Regions from separate parts of the Homo sapiens genome. Here region 2 is linked to region 1. Evidence: fine-mapped expression QTL. A gene starts in region 1. The other region holds a variant in brackets. All regions are shown on one strand. Distances are from middle to middle. Region 1 holds the start of RBM47 (RNA binding motif protein 47). Region 2 overlaps RBM47 (RNA binding motif protein 47).

Region 1 (8,332 bases):
CCCGCCTTGGCCTCCCAAAGTGCTGGGATTACAGACATGAGCCACCGTGCCCAGCCTAAGCCATCTTTTTAAAAGTCACAGTGCTATTATCATCACCAACTTGGAACCCTCGTTTTTGAAACACAAATGGTTTACCTGAGCTTACAAGGCTCAAATACACATTTTCAGAATAGGAATTAAATTGATCTAAGAGAAACAACACCTGAAAAAACCCTGTCCATTTTGTACTTCTGTACTTTTTGTTTTTCTTGGGGCACGTGAAATGCTTTACAAACATGATTGAGCCAGGTCTCAGTGCTCTGAAAGGTAGATACTTTTTATTATAATATTAATATGCTGACATTTCCTTGGTCAGGTACAGGCGTCCTGTTCCTGTTTCAGCTGCACAATGCCCTGCATTCATTGTACACTCACCCACTGCCCATTGGTACATATACTTAACTCTTGCTCACCCACATGTGGATTATCCATAGCGTCTGGGAACGGGTTGTCTTCCACCCCAGCTGGTGGATACTCAGGGAATATGAGCAAAACTGACAATTCATTGAAGCAAGGCACAATCAGGAGGCTCATTCAGCGTACACCCACCAGGAACCCACTGTGGTCTTCGTGCAGGGCCACCATGTTCATGAGAACCACAAATATATAGCATCCCCAAAGACAAATATCGTGATTTGGGGAGACTGGATGTTGTTTTCTTGATTAATGTGGCTGAGTGTAATCTATAAATAAAGCATACATTTTGCAGAACCAGAAATCTCCTGAGACCAAAAGATTGATATTTTCCTAAAACACAAAGGGTTTTCAGGGTTACACTAGCACTCTGTCTTCTCCCGATGTCATCTCCCTGAAATGGCCTTCAGAAAAGCAGAGATTGTGCTTTTGATTTCTAAAATGACTCCACTCTAAAAGCTTTGATAGGGTGCACCAAAAGAGCTACTATAGTCACAATCACTTTTACGTGATCAGCTTATTTATGTATTTTACTTTACAAACACATAAACCATATGCATCTAGACACACCCACAAATCGTTGTTTACATAAACTAAGTTCCTATGATGACAAAAATGGAAGATTCATAACAACCAAAAAAGATGCTCCTGTTAAATATGCAAGTTACATAAACTGAGCTGTAATTGTTTTGTTTTGTTTTTTCAGGTGTACTTAAACCACACAGAAAGTAGAGGAAAGGCAGACAGTGGGAGTATGGTTGAAGGGTTTGTGCCTTTTGTAATCAGTTTACTTTTGGTTTTACCAAGAGATGATATCTTGAATTCATTCAAACTAGTGTCTATTGCAGTACACTAGGAACATTTGAATTACAAAAGGAGAGGAGGAGCCTCCACTTCCCACAGTTGCTAGTTTACCTGCAATCCTTTGAGGGCAGTGGTAATCTCCATGTGAGCTTTCTGGTAAATTCCACACTAGGACCACATTCAGAACTTACCTGTTTCTTGGCCGTTTATTCCTCTAGACACTCTCTCCCTTTCTACTTTCGCTGGAAAATGAAAGTTTTCCTCCCCCACACCTTTTTCAGAGCAAAAGATACGAGAACCTTAAAAGCAGGTGGTCATTGACTTCAAGGGGACGAGATCGCCCTCCCCACTGCCTCTCCCCATACAGACGCTCACAGAATAGACGGGGAAGCAACTATGAGAGAAACAGAAGCAATCAGAACTCCAGCTCAGACGACCTCAGGAGTTTTACCAACAGGATGATTCAGGACCACACACAAAAAATGGCAGGGTGCCATTTCCCCCGAATCTCTCCCGCATAAGATGGAAACAACAACTTGAGGTGGCAACTGAGCAATTAGTTACTGATCATTTCTATGACAATTCTCTGAAGGCTCCAAAGGCCTCCTATCTTGAAACCCAGGTCATCTCTGCATTGCTATTATTGAAAATCTTTATCCAGTTGCTCTTTGAAGCCACTACTTGGAGCAGTAATGTTGGGACCAACACACACCTTTTATGATATTAAACCAGAAAATCAGCATCATCATTAAGACACAGAGACTGTTCCCAAGAGGGAAAGAAAATATATCTCCTAATCAGGCCAGTAGCTGAAACACTGCAATATAACCTGTAGCTTGGAATCACGGTGACAAGCACTTAAAGCTGCATTTAATGTCTTCATTGTAACTTCATCAAAGTTTGGCACACAAATTCTACCTTTATTCTAAGCATACCCTTTTTCTAAGTCTCATGAATCCCAAACTTAAACCCTCTTCAGAGTTTTTTTTCCCCAGAATTATGTATCTTCTGGGATTACCTAATCACAGTTTCACTTGAGCCTGGGTCCAATTTTAAGAAAATCTCCCTCCCTTCACGCTTATATCCACTCCCCTGACCTTTTCTGAAAAATCAAGAGACTTAAGATGTGGAGGCGGAAACTTACTGAAATAGCCAAATGCTTTTCTATAGCAATGAAAGCTCAGTCATTTGGGACATGATTTAATCTTGAGCTTCAGAGCAGAATTTGAAAAGCAAATTAAATCCTTTTGTAAGAAAATAATTTCATCTTAACCCAATCTTTTAAAAAATCATTACCTAGAACAGTAAACCAAATAGTCTAATATGAATGTTCTTATCATGTGAGGAAAAAAATGAGTAGTCTTTAACACTAGTTAGAGCAAGTCTATAGAACACGTGTCCAGAAGCATGTAGTTCCCTTGCTTTCTGTCTTTATTTCATCCTCAGTATCACTACTGCTTTGGGCAGAATTCTTTCAAAATTTAATTTAAAGCAGCACAGTGGGGGAATCAAAAATAAATATGTTGACTATTAAAAATATAGAGATTGGTAAAAAAAATGATGATGATGAATTCTCAATCCTACAAACTTCTGTAAACGCAAAAACCAAGAGGAAGATAATAAATCTTTAATAATTGATTGATATTCAGAATATCTTGATCTAATTAATTTAAAGCATGGCCTACCTAGCCAGGTAAAGGACGGCACAGCTAGGCTTATTTCTTCATTTGACACATACTGAAAGTTAATAATGAAGCTAGGTGCTTGGGAAATTTCTGAGACCCCATCCTTCCAGCATGCAATAATTAAGTCAAAGAGGCCAACAGTGTGTATATCAGAACAAGGTGAAGGGTAAAGCAGACCAGAAAAAAATATTAAAAACCAAACCATCTCCTCCTTTCTTTTTTTCCTTCTGTTTTCCTTTCAGACTGGGTTGATTTTAGTTCCCTCCAAGACTTCAAGTCATTGATCTAACAAAGATCATTGTTTAAATTAATAGCAACACAAACTCCCACAAAGTGATCTCTTCTTATGCTCTAGGTTGAGTACTTTGGTTTATCTAGAGGTTGTGTGTTACGCCGCTGACCACCTTTCACCTTTTAGAATCGGCACCTGCAATTCTCAAATGCTCTGGATCTAATTGCCAACCTTTTGAGCTCAAAACTTCGGCAACTCCTTCATGTTGGGTTGTCAACCCTTTGCTTTCCCTCCCCTGAGAAATTCGTATGACCTTGCCTTAAAACTTTTAAAGAATACATTTTAAAATCTATATTCCTGCTAAAGAAAACAGTGAGTCATTAAAATACCACCAGATAAAAAAAAAAGGTTTGATTTTTAGTTCAGGTCGGTAATGGCCTGTAAGTACCTTGAAGATGGTATCTTCCTATCACTTATGCCTTGGGACAGTACCCAAGAGTGGCTGAACTTTTACCTAATTAAAAAATGAGTCATTTATTTGAAAAATTCCACTTCCATTTATTTTATCTGATTTCTTAAATATCCGGTCAACTGCTAATTTGTCAGATGTCATAATTCGTCAGTCCTACCCTTTTCTACAGGCTGAATTTTTAATTTGAAACAACTACACCTCTACCGAGTGTTACTTTCAGACGTAAATTACTGCAGGAAGACCCCCCTCTGCCTTGGTTAACACTTAAATGAGATGCCTCCTGTCCAGGACGCTTCCTCAGTCTCACTGTAATAATCTGAGTCTAAAGTCACCTGTGCTTCTGGGCGGTCCAATCATGTATTTTCAAGAGTGAAAAAAAAAAATCAGTTTCTTTTATGGGAAAAGATTCATCACTACAGGAAACACGATGGGACTGACTGTATATGATTATCTGCCTTCCCAGAGGTTGACCCTTTTAAAACCGTTTTATAAACCCTTTATTTCCCACTAAATATACCAAGAGACAGAAGATGAGTGATAGCATGAGGGATAAGAGCTAAAGAGAGAAGAATAAGAAAAAAATATACACTTCAAAAATTGGGACCCAAATGTAAGATTAAGGGACAATAGTTAGAAGGACTACCAAAAACCACCTTACCTTTCCTTGTTAAGTTTTTGGAGCCGCCCACTTCAGAAATTAACACCATTCACAGCCCAGGAGCAACTTAACACAGCTAGGAAGTCACCTACAACATCTTCTCGTCCGCCTTCTTTTTAATGTAAAACCAAAATAAGGAGTGTCCAGCGACTCCCCACCGCGCCGCTTAAAGCAACAGAGCGTTTTAGGCTTAACTCCCAGGCTCTGGGAATTCCAGTGGGTCAGAATTGCTTAACCTTGGAGACTTGCAGAGAGAAAGTCTCCAGGAGGACCGCTCCCCAAACCCTGGTTTCTCTCTATCCCAAGCTGCACATTCCACAGTGGAAAGCGGGAGCGGCGACCCGAAGGCAGCGAAGTTCTCTCGGGCTCAGCTCCCGAGGCCGGGAGCGCGCGGCGGTTCCACCCGCAGAGCGGCGCCGCGTCCCGGCTGCGTGGGGCGCTGCGCACGGGAGCGCTCAGCGTCTAGTCTGCGGGCCCTTCCCGGTTCCCTCCCTCTCTCCTCCCGCCGCCCGCCCCCTGCCGAGGCCATCCGCCTCACAGTAGCAAGGTTGTCTCTCGTCTACTCCCTTCCCTTAAACTCACCAAACCAGATTTTTACTCCCAACACCGGCAACTTCCCGTAAATCTGCCCTGAAATTTTATCCTGCTGGCTGAGCCTCCCCTGGCTAAAGGCCAGTGCCACATTCCTGTTGTTTTTTAGGAGCGCAGATACCTTTGCTGAAGGTTCAAAGAAAATCGGCCTTGATGGCAGAGATTGGGGGACTTGACCAGACGGACTTCTCTCCCCGCCCCAAAAGTCACATGCCTTTCAGACACCCAGAAGTGGCACCTGCTCCACCTGGGGGCATCTGTCCGAGTCAGACGCTCGGCCCCCTTCGGGCTGCTCCGAGAAACCCAGCCAGAACCACGTTGGAGAAATTAGGAACCTGCTGCTGAATTTCAAGCCGATCGGAACCGCCCCGCTCCCCTTCTTCCCCCCATAAACAAGTCGCTGGACGAGGTGGGATCTCTGCGACCCCCGCGTGCCCGGGGAGAGCTCCCGGGGCGAGCTCCCGGGGCGTCCTTACCTGGGGCCGAGCATGGCTTGGCCGCGCGCAGGCAGGAGCGTCACGCGGACGGGGCCCTGACCTTTGCCGGGGCCTTCGCAGCAGGGCCTGGGGCCTGGGCGCTGCTCGTTCAGAAGTGGCTCATTTTAGTGCGCTCTGACCTAGAGTTACGGAGGGTTTCTAGAAAGGGAACAAAAAAACACTGCATTTAGAAACAGCAGCCAAGCCCTCGCTTCACCTTGCCTGCTCTCTGGGGAGTTGGCTCGAACCCCCACCCCATCCCAATTCCCAAGAAACCCAGATGTCCGCAATCCGCGCCCCACCCCCTCCGCCTTACCTGTTTATACAAGAGTTAAGGAGCCTCCCGCATTTCAGTGGAGCGCTAAGCCTGTTTGTAGGCGCGGAATGGGCCAACAGGAATCGAATTCTGTGACTAAACAAACTAGAAGAGGAAGCAGGCACCACCAGGAACCTAAAACAGAGTTGTGATTTCGGGTTGCAGTGTCATTCAGCTGAGGGGAAAGAAAAAAATACCGGGCTACTTTAGTGAAAGAATGTTCCAAAAATGGTTCTTTGCTGGTTGAGTTAACACATGCAAAGAGCTTAGAACGGTGCCTAGCACACAGTGTTAGCTGCCGTTATTGTTGTTGTTATTCTTCTTATTATTATTTACATTATGGCTTTTTTCTGAAGAAGAGTGTGTGGTCAGAGTTAGACATGGGCTGTAGCACCAGCATTGCCACTCACCAGCTGTGAGGCCATGAGCAAGATATTTAATCTCTCCCAGCCTCAGTTTCTGGAAGATTCTAACGATGGGATTTTTACAAACAGTTTATATTCATTGCTGACAGTCTTGAATACAATGGGAAATAAAGTCCCTGTAAAGGGTAGCCAACTGAATTTCATCTCACTTAAAAGTTACAAGATTGACAACAGAAATGGAGATAAATTTGCCTGCATTCCATGAAGCTCACTAACGGGAAGGAAATTCAGGGCCCAGCAATCACCCATCTGCTATGCTTAATTCTCATTTGTATTTTGGCACTTGACCTGGTGTCTTACCCTGGGATAGTTACTTATCCCAGACTGGGCCGGACAAATAATGACCCTTGCCGTTTGAAAAGCAGTATGAAAGAGAGGGAAATGATTTTGAAACTCCTCATAAATATTAAAAAGTGATTATTGAAGGCTAAAATGTTATCAGTGCCTCCACCCTTTATCCTCCATTTAACTTCACATTTAAAGAAAGAAATCATAATCCCTTTCCATTAGTGAGGCCCTTTCTACTTTATGGAGCACTTTCACCCTTCTTACTTTATGTGATCCTTACAAAATGATCCTATGAGCTATTTTGTCCCCATTTTGCAGATGAAGACACTGAGATCACACAGGTTAAGTGTAAGTCCAAGGTGGTGAGGCCAGGACTGGTTCTCAGTTCTAGTTAATTTTTTTTTAAGTTGAAAAATCAAACTGGATTTATTAAAATATATATAAATAACCCTCATTTTTCTTTATTTCATCAGTATTGGAAAGTTAAGTGAAAATTAATTAAAAAGTAGTAGTCCTAAGAGAGAGAAACAAAGGCTGAAGGGGTATCAAGAAAACCATAAATTTAAAAAGCAGCATTTGCCACCTTTGGGAAAAATGATTCCTTAAAACCAGCAAAGCATTCTGGAACATTTTAAATCCTTCTGATCTTTTATCTTCTCATGAGGCAAAATTTAACCCAGACAAATTCAACATTTCCTGTGTTTTAGGTTCATTCTTTGTCGATACCAGCCAGCATGTACTGTGAACAGCAGGCAGTGGGAACTCTCTTAGCTAAGTTCCCTCACCAGACCTAAGGGTTGATGCTGCCAGGCACAAACAACGGCTCCACCCCCTTAAGACAACTAAAAAACCCAGCTCCATATTAGCCTGAAATTTTCTTTTCTTTTCCAGAAGTATCTGGATTATGGCCTCAAAAAAGGCTCGCTGTCACAGACTGTCTGAGCTGAAGGATTCTAGAGGGGACATTCTCGCTGGGCACGGTGGCTCACGCCTGTAATCCCCACACTTTGGGAGGTCGAGGCAGGCAGATAACCTGAGGTCAGGAGTTCCAGATGAGCCTGGCCAACGTGGCGAAACCCCGTCTCTACTAAAAATACAAAAATTGGCTGGGCATGGTGGCAGGCACCTGTAATTCTAGCCACTCGGGAGGCTGAGGCGGGAGAATGGCTTGAACCCGGGAGGTGAAGTTTGCAGGGAGCCGAGATCGCGCCACTGCACTCCGGCCTGGGCGAAAGAGCAAGACTCCGTCTCAAAAAAAAAAATAAACACATAAATAAATTTAAAAAATGATAAAAATAAAAGAAATTTGAAAGTGTGGAGGTCAGTGACTCCAGGTGAACTGGAACTGGAGTCAGGGAAAACTCCTGCTTGAGGAGGCTCAGGTTCCACTTCAGGAAGTGAGTCCTCATCTCAAAGAGGGTCAGTTACCCTTTTTCAGATGTTGCCTGCTCCTTCTTCAGTTTTGCCCACTGACACCTATGAAATGGGTATATCCTTTCTTTCTTTTTTTGCACTCCATATCCGCTGGAGAAATGGGTATAATTCTTGTTCCTATTTCTCACTGCCCTCCCCGGGAACATGACAAAAATAAAACAGATTTTTCTAAGTGGCAGGCTATAGCAAAACAAATGTGAACTTTTATTATTTCTTTTTTGTGGCTAACCTTGGCGCCTGTTTTATTATTATTATAATTATTTTAATTCTTAGGCCCACTCCATTTTCCTGGGGCATTTTAGTTTTCTAGACCCTTGTCTTTTACTTTCTGTTTTCTTCTTTTCCTTCTGCCTATGAGGCAATGTTCCGGAGTGAGTGCAAACAGCATGAAAATTAGTTTCCAATAGATTTGAGTTTGAATCTCAATTTCTTCTCTGAGCTATGTGATGTTGGACAAATTGCTTAATCGCTTTGAGTTTTAGTGTCTTCATTTATAAA
Region 2 (8,332 bases), 52 kb before region 1:
TTAAAATTCACCACAAAATTGCAGAAGTGGGCCGGATGCGGTAACTCACACCTGGAATCACAACACTTTGGGAGGCCGAGGCGGGCGGATTACTTGAGGCCAGGAGTTCAAGACTAGCCTGGCCAAAATGGTGAAACCCTGTCTGCTAAAAATACAAAAATTAGCTGCTGGGTGTGGTGGTAGGTGCCTGTAATCCCAGCTAATTGGGAGGCTGAGACAGAAGAATTGCTTGAACCCAGGAGGCAGAGGTTGCAATGAGCCGACATTGCGCCATTATACTCCAGACTAGGTGACAGAGCAAGACTTCATCTCAAAAAAAAAAAAAAAAAAAAAATTGTAGAAGTGTTTTCTATCCCTAGTTGAGAACTGAAGAAGAGAAATCTAACCAGAGAATTTGGTAAGCACATCTTATATGCATTTTTTAAAGACATTAATTCCAGTTATCCCTGGTACTGGGACTGCAGGTGATTTTAATTATCTCCTTTGTGTTCTGTGTTTCTCCAGGGCCACTGTTAATTTTATAATTAGCTTAAAATTTGTTCAAATAAAGTAAATATTATAAAGAGAAATTGTCTTCAGTAGTTAAGAAAAGGATGAAATTTTGAGTTTGAGGGTAACTAGGCTGGGCATAGTGGATTATGCCTGTAATCCCAGCACTTTGAGAGGCTGAGGCTGGTGGATCACTTGAGGTCAAGAGTTCGAGACCAGCCTGGCCAACATGGTGAAACCCCATCTCTACAAAAAATACAAAAATTAGCTGGGCATGGTAGCATGTGCCTGTAGTCCCAGCTACTCAGGATAATTGCCTGAACCCGGGAGGCAGAGGTTGGTGTAAGCCTAGATCATGCCACTAAACTCCAGCCTGGGGAAGAGACAGAGCAAGGCTCTGTCTAAAAAAAGAAAAGCAAGAAAGAAAGAGAGAGAGAGAGAAAGAAAGAAAGAAAGAGAGAGAGAGAGAAAGAAAGAAAAAGAAAGAAAGAAAGAAAGAAAGAAAGAGAAAGAAAGAAAGAAAAATAAACTTTGACTTTGAGGGTAATGAAAAATTGGAACAGTTTCCTAAGAAAGATAATCATAATTTCCATTTCTGTAAAACTTTATAAAATTGTATTAGACATCTTTGGTTTAAATTTTCATTTGTTAAAGGCTATGGTGGATCAGATGACCTTTTGCCACAAAGCTTTCATAGCAACCGAAGAGCAGTGTTTAGAATATTTTTCACTTAAATAATGAGGAAGAACAGGGCTGACTGCACGAGGTGGAAGAATCCAGATTGTGCAAATGGTCTTCCGTTCTGCAGCCTCTCTGCAGTTGTTGTGGGTTATTAGACTTCCGAGATCTAAATATTCTCCCAGAGTGTAGGAAACTCCTCCTAAAGTTTTACATAAAATATAATCTCATTATTTCAGAAATAGACTGGGTAAAACTAGTACCATGAGAAGAAACAAGCTTTTCAGTTAAGACCGAGTTTAATTCTGGTTTTTCTAAGAAATAAAGACTTTTATTTGTTTGATTCCAGAGAACCTCAGGGGACACCCGACTGAGACAAACTGAAAAGTTAGAAGAAAGAATTTCCAGATTCCAAAAATAATTCAACAGAATGACTCTTTTCAGAACGTTAGACAAACCTGTATTCTGTAGGTATGTTTTAGAATCTCATAGGTAATCACAAGATTATAGATGACAGGGAAGATGAAAAAGTCAAGGAAGCTATCAAAGTATTGGAAATGGGCTGGGTGTGGTGGCTCACGCCTGTAATCCCAGCACTTTGGGAAGCTGAGGTGGGCAGATCACCTGAGATCAGGAGTTCAAAACCAGCCTGGCCAACGTGGTGAAATCCCATCTCTACTAAAAATACAGAAATTAGCCAGGTGTGGTGGCATATGCCTGTAATCTCAGCTACTCGGGAGGCTGAGGCAGAAGAATCACTTGAACCCCGGAGGCAGAGGTTGCATTGAGCCAAGATCACACAACTGCACTCTAGCCTGGGCAACAGAGTGAGACTCTGTATCAAAGAAGAAAGAAAAAGCATCAGAATTGGCAAAACTGGAGGAAAAGAACAAAAAATGAAGAGAACATCAGATAGGTTACGAAGATAATCAGTTTGGGTCAATTCCCCTAAAACATGGGAGCTGCCATAGACCCCTCAAGGCAATAGTTTTCAATTGGGAACCATTTGGGTCCCCAAGAAGTTATCTGGCAACGCATGAAGACATTTTTGGTGGTGGGTGCTACTGGCTTCTAATAAGCACAGGCATACTGCTAAACATCCTATAATGCACAGGAAAACCCCTTAAAACAATCCAAAATATCAACTGTGCCAAGATTGAGAAACCCTACATTGAAGAATACTGGCCCTACAGAAACACTGAACAGACACTGTAATTCACAAAGGGAATGTTATTAATACAGCTACCTATAAAGAAATACCAAGGAAGCTGGGCGTGGTGGCTCACACCTATAATCCCAGCTTTTTGGCTGATTCAGGCGGATCACCTGAGGTCAGGAGTTCGAGACCAGCCTGATCAACATGGAGAAACCCGGTCTCTACTTAAAAATACAAAATTAGCCAGGAGTGGTGGCGGGCCCCTTTAATCCCAGCTACTCAGGAGGCTGAGGCAGGAAAGTCGCTTGAACCTGGGAGGCAGCGGTTGCGGTGAGTCGAGATCGTGCCACTGCACTCCAGCCTGGGCAACAAGAGCGAAACTCCATCTCAAAAAAAAAAAAAAAACTACCAAGGAATAGCTACCTATAAAGAAGTCTCCCCAAGTTAACTGAATACTTAAAATTTGAATACTTAATGGTTTTGTCCTTAATCCCCGTTGGACCACTTTGATAAGGGCTACTGTGTGTCTGAGTGACCAACCCATGCCAGTTTGCCCAGGACTGTCCTGGTTTTAGCACTGAAAGGACAAATGAAGCCATTCTGTCCGCCAAGAGTACAGTGATATTTGGTCATCTGGAATTTTCTCTCTTTTGAAGAGAAACCTCAGATTCCTTCATGGTTTCCTCTGTGCTTGTTCTCACACATTACCAAGCTCCTGAGGCCTGGCTCCAGCAGGGAGAGAAAGGGTCTGATCTCAGAGGTGCTCTCTGATCCAGAGGAAGCCCAGAAGAAATGGGGGCCTGCCAGTGCTGGTGGCCAGGAGGGCATTGTTAATAGCTCATCTGGTTCTGTCGCCACCCAAGGCAGGGTTCTCCTTTGGATCGGACACTGGGGAAGTGTTCCTTCCCTGCAGGCTCACATAGCTTGCTAAGAGGCATCTTTCCTCACCTCCTCCTGGGGCAGTGCCCCAGGCAATGGAATGCATTCCTTGAGAAAGGATCCCTTACATGCTTTCCCTTATCTTTCCCAGATTATGCCCTTTCTTCAGCCTATTTCTTTTTTTCTTTCTCTTTTCTGTTTTTTTTTTTTTTTTGGGGGGGGGCGGAGACAGGGTCTCCCCCTGTCACCCACAATCATATTTATGCCTGATCAATTTTTTAAAAAAATTTTTTTGTAGAGATGGGGTCTTGCTATGTCGCCCAGGCTGGTCTTGAACTCCTAGCCTGAGCAACATAGCAACAGCCACCATGCCTGGCCTCCAAGCCTATTTCTTACAAAGGTGAAACTTTCTAACTACTACCTAGCCCCTGTGATCAACTTACATAACATATATGAAAGCATTTTGGAAACTGTAAAATATCAGACAAACGTAACATACTAACATCACAATGAGAAATCATTTGTCATTTTTCTTTTTTAAAAGAGACAGGGTCTCACTCTATCGCCCAGGCTGGAGTGCAGTGGCATGATCATGGATGGCTCACTGCAGCCTCAAACTTCTGGCCTCAAGTGATCCTCTTGCCTGAGCCCCTCAGGGTGCTGGGATTACAGGTGCAAGCTCAGCTCATTTCTATTTTTGAAGTTAGCAACTGAGGGTTGTTTCACTTTCTAGATACTTTAAATTCCCGTGTGGCAGGCACTGTTGTAAACACTTTGCATGTGTTATCTCATATAATATTCACAGAAATCCTGATGATGATGATGATGATACCCATTTTATAGATGAAGAAACTGAGATAGGATGACATTAAATAACTTTCCCAGGGTCACAGAGCTGGTGGAGCTGAGTGATTAGATTCAGACAGGCTGGCTCCAAAGTCCATGCTGAATGCTACCTGTGACTCAAGCCAGGAGAAAAAAAGGAGTTGCTCAAATAAAGCGTCCCTGGCAGTAACGAATCATTAACTTTCAGCCCACTCCAAGGAATGG[G/A]TGGCCTGAGGGTCACGTGCTAAAGAGGAAACCCTGAGTGAGTCAATCATGAACACATGACTGTTCTTAGTTCCTTATAGGTTTGCTTCCTCAAATAGCCTTCCTGGAGTGCTGAGCCAAGAGATGGATTGGGACCAGTTTCAGTTCTGGGAAAGGGGCTGAACCCCATCTAGCCAATGCCTGCACCCACGCTTCAGCTCTGTGCATGCTGGTGGCCGAATCTAACACAGGCCACAGGGACTTCCTCAAACTGGGAAATGCCTGCTCATGTTGTCAAGAGTCCTCAGCAACAGCTTGTTTGCCGACTAAACAAGGCTGCCACCTCACACAGGCAGCCTCAGAAAGATCAGGGAGTTAATAGTTACATGAAGACAGCTCAGAGAACAGCTCAAGTGACAGTCCAGACAAATGCAGATCGTATAATGGGTACCTGGTTAGATTCTGTTTAAAAAAAAAAAAAAGGATGTTCCTCTCTGCTATTTATTCCCTGTTCCAATTTTTTTAAAAATCCTGTTTTCCCTTTCCTGATCCTCCCTTATGGTATCTCATACTTAAAAAAAAAAAAAGTCTGGGATAAGCTGATAGTCACAAAGAAACAGGAATGCAACAAACCAGAAACCCAAAGCCCCAAATCTCTGCCTTATCACAGACCGTTTAAAACTCTGGAGTTTTTTCCTACTTCAGCACATATCTCAAGATTAGATAAATGTGGTACCATTGTGTTACTCCCTGGTGAAGAAACCAACAAACTGTCCAATAAAAATTACAGGAAGCTAGGAGCGGTGGTGCGTGCGTGTAGTCCCAGCTACTCAGGGGGCTGAGATGGGAAGATGGCTTGAGCCTAGGAGGTCAAGGCCAGCCTAGACAACACAGCAAGACCTCTTCTCTTAAAAAAAGAAAAAAAGAATTATAGGAGGTCACTGTTTTGGACTAAACTTCTGCAACTAGGGCCCAATAGACCAGACTGAAAATCAAAATGGAGTCACCCAGGCTAAAGTTCCACATCACAAAACAGAAACTAAGTTGTTGTCTGACCTTCTCAGTAATCAGGACGAAGAAATAACACCAAATTTCTTAAATGGGCCAGTTTCAAATCTTTAATTGGCATAATGAAACTCCCTGCTTTAATCCTTAAAGTAATCTGATGTTATTTTTCTGTTGTTCTGTCTCCTGTTGTCCCATTCCTTACAAAAAAAGTATCTTTGAAACAATTAATATACTTTAAGTTCTTTCCTTCTACTTTATAAAGCCAAGCTCTTCTGCTCGGCTGACTGGAACCCTTTTCCTATAATATGGAAGGAAGTGTTGCCCGATTCTAGAAACTCAAATAAAAGCAATTGAGAACTTTAAACTAAATTTGTTGCAATTTTGTCTTTTGACACATAGGATTTTCCTCCTGACACTTATAGACAATTGTAGAATAAATGGCCTCCCTCTGCCTCCATTTTCTACTTCCATTCATTTTCAGTGTTCTTAGCTTTTTCTTTCTACATGCCCACCACTTAGATTTCATTGTTCTTCCATCTGAAAGCTTTGCTTATGGCCTTTTCTATCATTTTCTCTTCTACCTTAACTTCTAGAGTTATTATGTTACCTAGGACAAGAGATATGACTTCTCACTGCCTCAGTTCCTCATCTGTAAATGGTGCTGTGTAGCAGGGCCTGCTGTAAGGGCTAAGGGGTAACGCACACAAAGTGCTTGGCACAATGCTACACACAGTAGGTGCTCAAAATGTGATAGCAAGCTGGGCACGATGGCTCACGCCTGTAATTCCAGCACTTTGGGAGGCCAGGGAGGGCAGATCACTTGAGGTCAGGAGTTCAAGACCAGCCTGGGCAATATGGTGAAACCCCATCTCCACTAAAATAACAAAAAATTAGCCAGACATGGTGGCGTGCACTTGTACTCCCAGCTACTCAGGAGGCTGAGGCAGAAGAATCACTTGAACCTGGGAGGCGGAGGCTACAGTGAGCCAAGATCATGCCACTGCACTCCAGCCTGGGCAACAGAGCGAGACTCTATCTTAAATTAAAAAAAAAAAAAATGCAGCCAGGCACGGTGGCTCACGCTTGTAATCCCAGCACTTTGGGAGGCCAAGACTGGCGGATCACGAGGTCAGGAGACTGAGACCATCCTGGCTAACACACTGAAACCCCATCTCTACTAAAAATACAAAAAATTAGCTGGGCATGGTGGCACGCGCCTGTAGTCCCAGCTACTCAGGAGGCTGAGGCAGGAGAACCACTTGAACCCGGGAGGTGGAGGTTGTAGTGAGTCGAGATCATGCCACTATACTCCAGCCTGGGTGACAGAGCGAGACCCTGTCTCAGAAAAAAAAAAAAAAAAAATGCAATAGCAAAGAAACAAATTGGATGGGAATAACTAGTTCAGATTCTCTAGGTAAAACTCTATAACTTTAAGGGTAATTATTTAAAAGTTATTAAAATTATAAAAAATAAGATCTGACTTAAGTGGGAACTAGATTACCTATTTTAGGGAGATGATATGAAGAAAATTTACCCATCTTATGGAGGTGGTTCAAATCAGAGCACTTCTCCATACACGAGTCAATCTACATTCCCAAGAAGCTCTGAAGCATTTTTCTCTGTGGGTCTTTGCTGGAGTTATTACATTGAGAAAGTAAACTTTAGGGTAATTTTTTTTTTTTTTTTGAGACTAGGTCTCACTCTGTCACCCAGGCTGGACTGCAGTGGCACAATCACAGCTCACTGCAACCTCTGCCTCCCTGGCTCAAGGGATCCTCCTACCTCAGTCTCCCATGTAGAGGTGACCACAGGTGCACACTACCATGCCTGTCTATTTTTTTAAATTATTTTTTATTTTTGTAGAGACAGGGTCTCGCCTTGTTGCCCAGGCTGGTCTTGAACTCCTGGGCTCAAGGGATCTTCCTGCCTTGACCTCCCAAAGTGCTGGGATTACAGGAGTGAGCCACCGCTTCCGGCCTACTTTTAGAGGATTTATAAATTCGAATTGGTCTAAGTTCCAACATGCCAAATATCCTGGACCTCTCACCAGTAAAAAATTTTCCTTCAGTTGAACTTGGTTTAGTTAGCAAAGTCAAATGAGTCCACTTCATGGATATTTTCTAAATGTGTTTCCTCATACTTTTTTTTTTTTAACTCTTAGAATCCAAGTGACTCATCTGTGTGCTTGAATCCTTTCCACTGTCTCATCTCCCTCATCCAAGTTTCTAGTACCTTCTCTTTGTTGTGAAGGATAATCAAACTGAACAACAAAAAGTTTACTCTCCTCATTTGGAACCTAAAAACTCTCTTCTTCCTGGGTCTGAGGGCTCCAAGAATCCTTGAATCAGTTCTCAGATCATTGTGGACACCAGATCAGGAACCTCAGGCACGTGGGAAGGCCAGATAATTAGGAGGGATGCTGAAGAGAAAGCCCGATGACCACAGCACGGTGATGGTTTAAAGGCCTTGAAATTTGGTTACCATCATTCCCCAACCCACCAACCGCCCATGGGCTGCATTCACCAGCACGCACTGGCAGCCGCAGCCACCCGTTCTCTTTCCTTGCATTGCTGAGCAAGTTTCCCATATCATTCAGTTAGGCTCAGCTCTCACACATATTGAGGAATGATCCCTACCACTGCTCGCACATGAATGGGAAAGGATGTACAATACATAAAGGCAGAGACAGGAGAATTTCAGACAGTGGTAAAAGTTGTGAGGTAAATAAAGCAGAGGAATGGGACAGAGATTAACAGAGATTGGTGAGAGAGAGAAGGCCACTCTGATATTTGTGCTGAGAGTTGAACAAAGAGACAGGGAGCCTAGCAAGGATCTAGGGAAAGAGCAATCTAGGCACAAACAAGGGCAAACGCCCCATGGCGGGAACAGGTTTGTTCATTTTGTTTTCGCTTTAATTCCAGGAACAAGAATCTGTGGCTGGAATCTGGTAATGGAGGCAGAGGTGGGAGCACAGAGGTTGGGAGGTGGCCAGAGGTCATGAGCTGAAAAACTCATGAGCCATAGGAGGGAGCTTGGGTTTTAGTCTAAAGAAAAGGAGAAAGCCGGGCACGGTGGCTCAGGCCTATAATCCCA

Evidence for each region. PIP is the estimated chance that this variant, and not a neighbour inherited with it, causes the effect.
Region 2: its variant is fine-mapped to the expression of RBM47 in whole blood (TOPMed, PIP above 0.99).

Annotation. Positions count from the first base shown.
Region 1 is chr4:40,625,092-40,633,423 of GRCh38, forward strand. It overlaps RBM47 (RNA binding motif protein 47), which reads right to left and starts at 4,773. Exons shown (of 7, transcript NM_001098634.2): 1 at 4,305-4,773. RefSeq lists enhancers at 3,630-4,506, 4,507-5,384, 4,567-4,636.
Region 2 is chr4:40,572,841-40,581,172 of GRCh38, forward strand. All of the region lies in intron 1 of RBM47 (RNA binding motif protein 47), which reads right to left. Among named protein-coding and RNA genes, the nearest start is that of RBM47, 53 kb to the right of the region's middle. RefSeq lists enhancers at 4,299-4,468, 4,489-4,688. The variant G/A (reference allele first, on the strand shown) is at 4,253.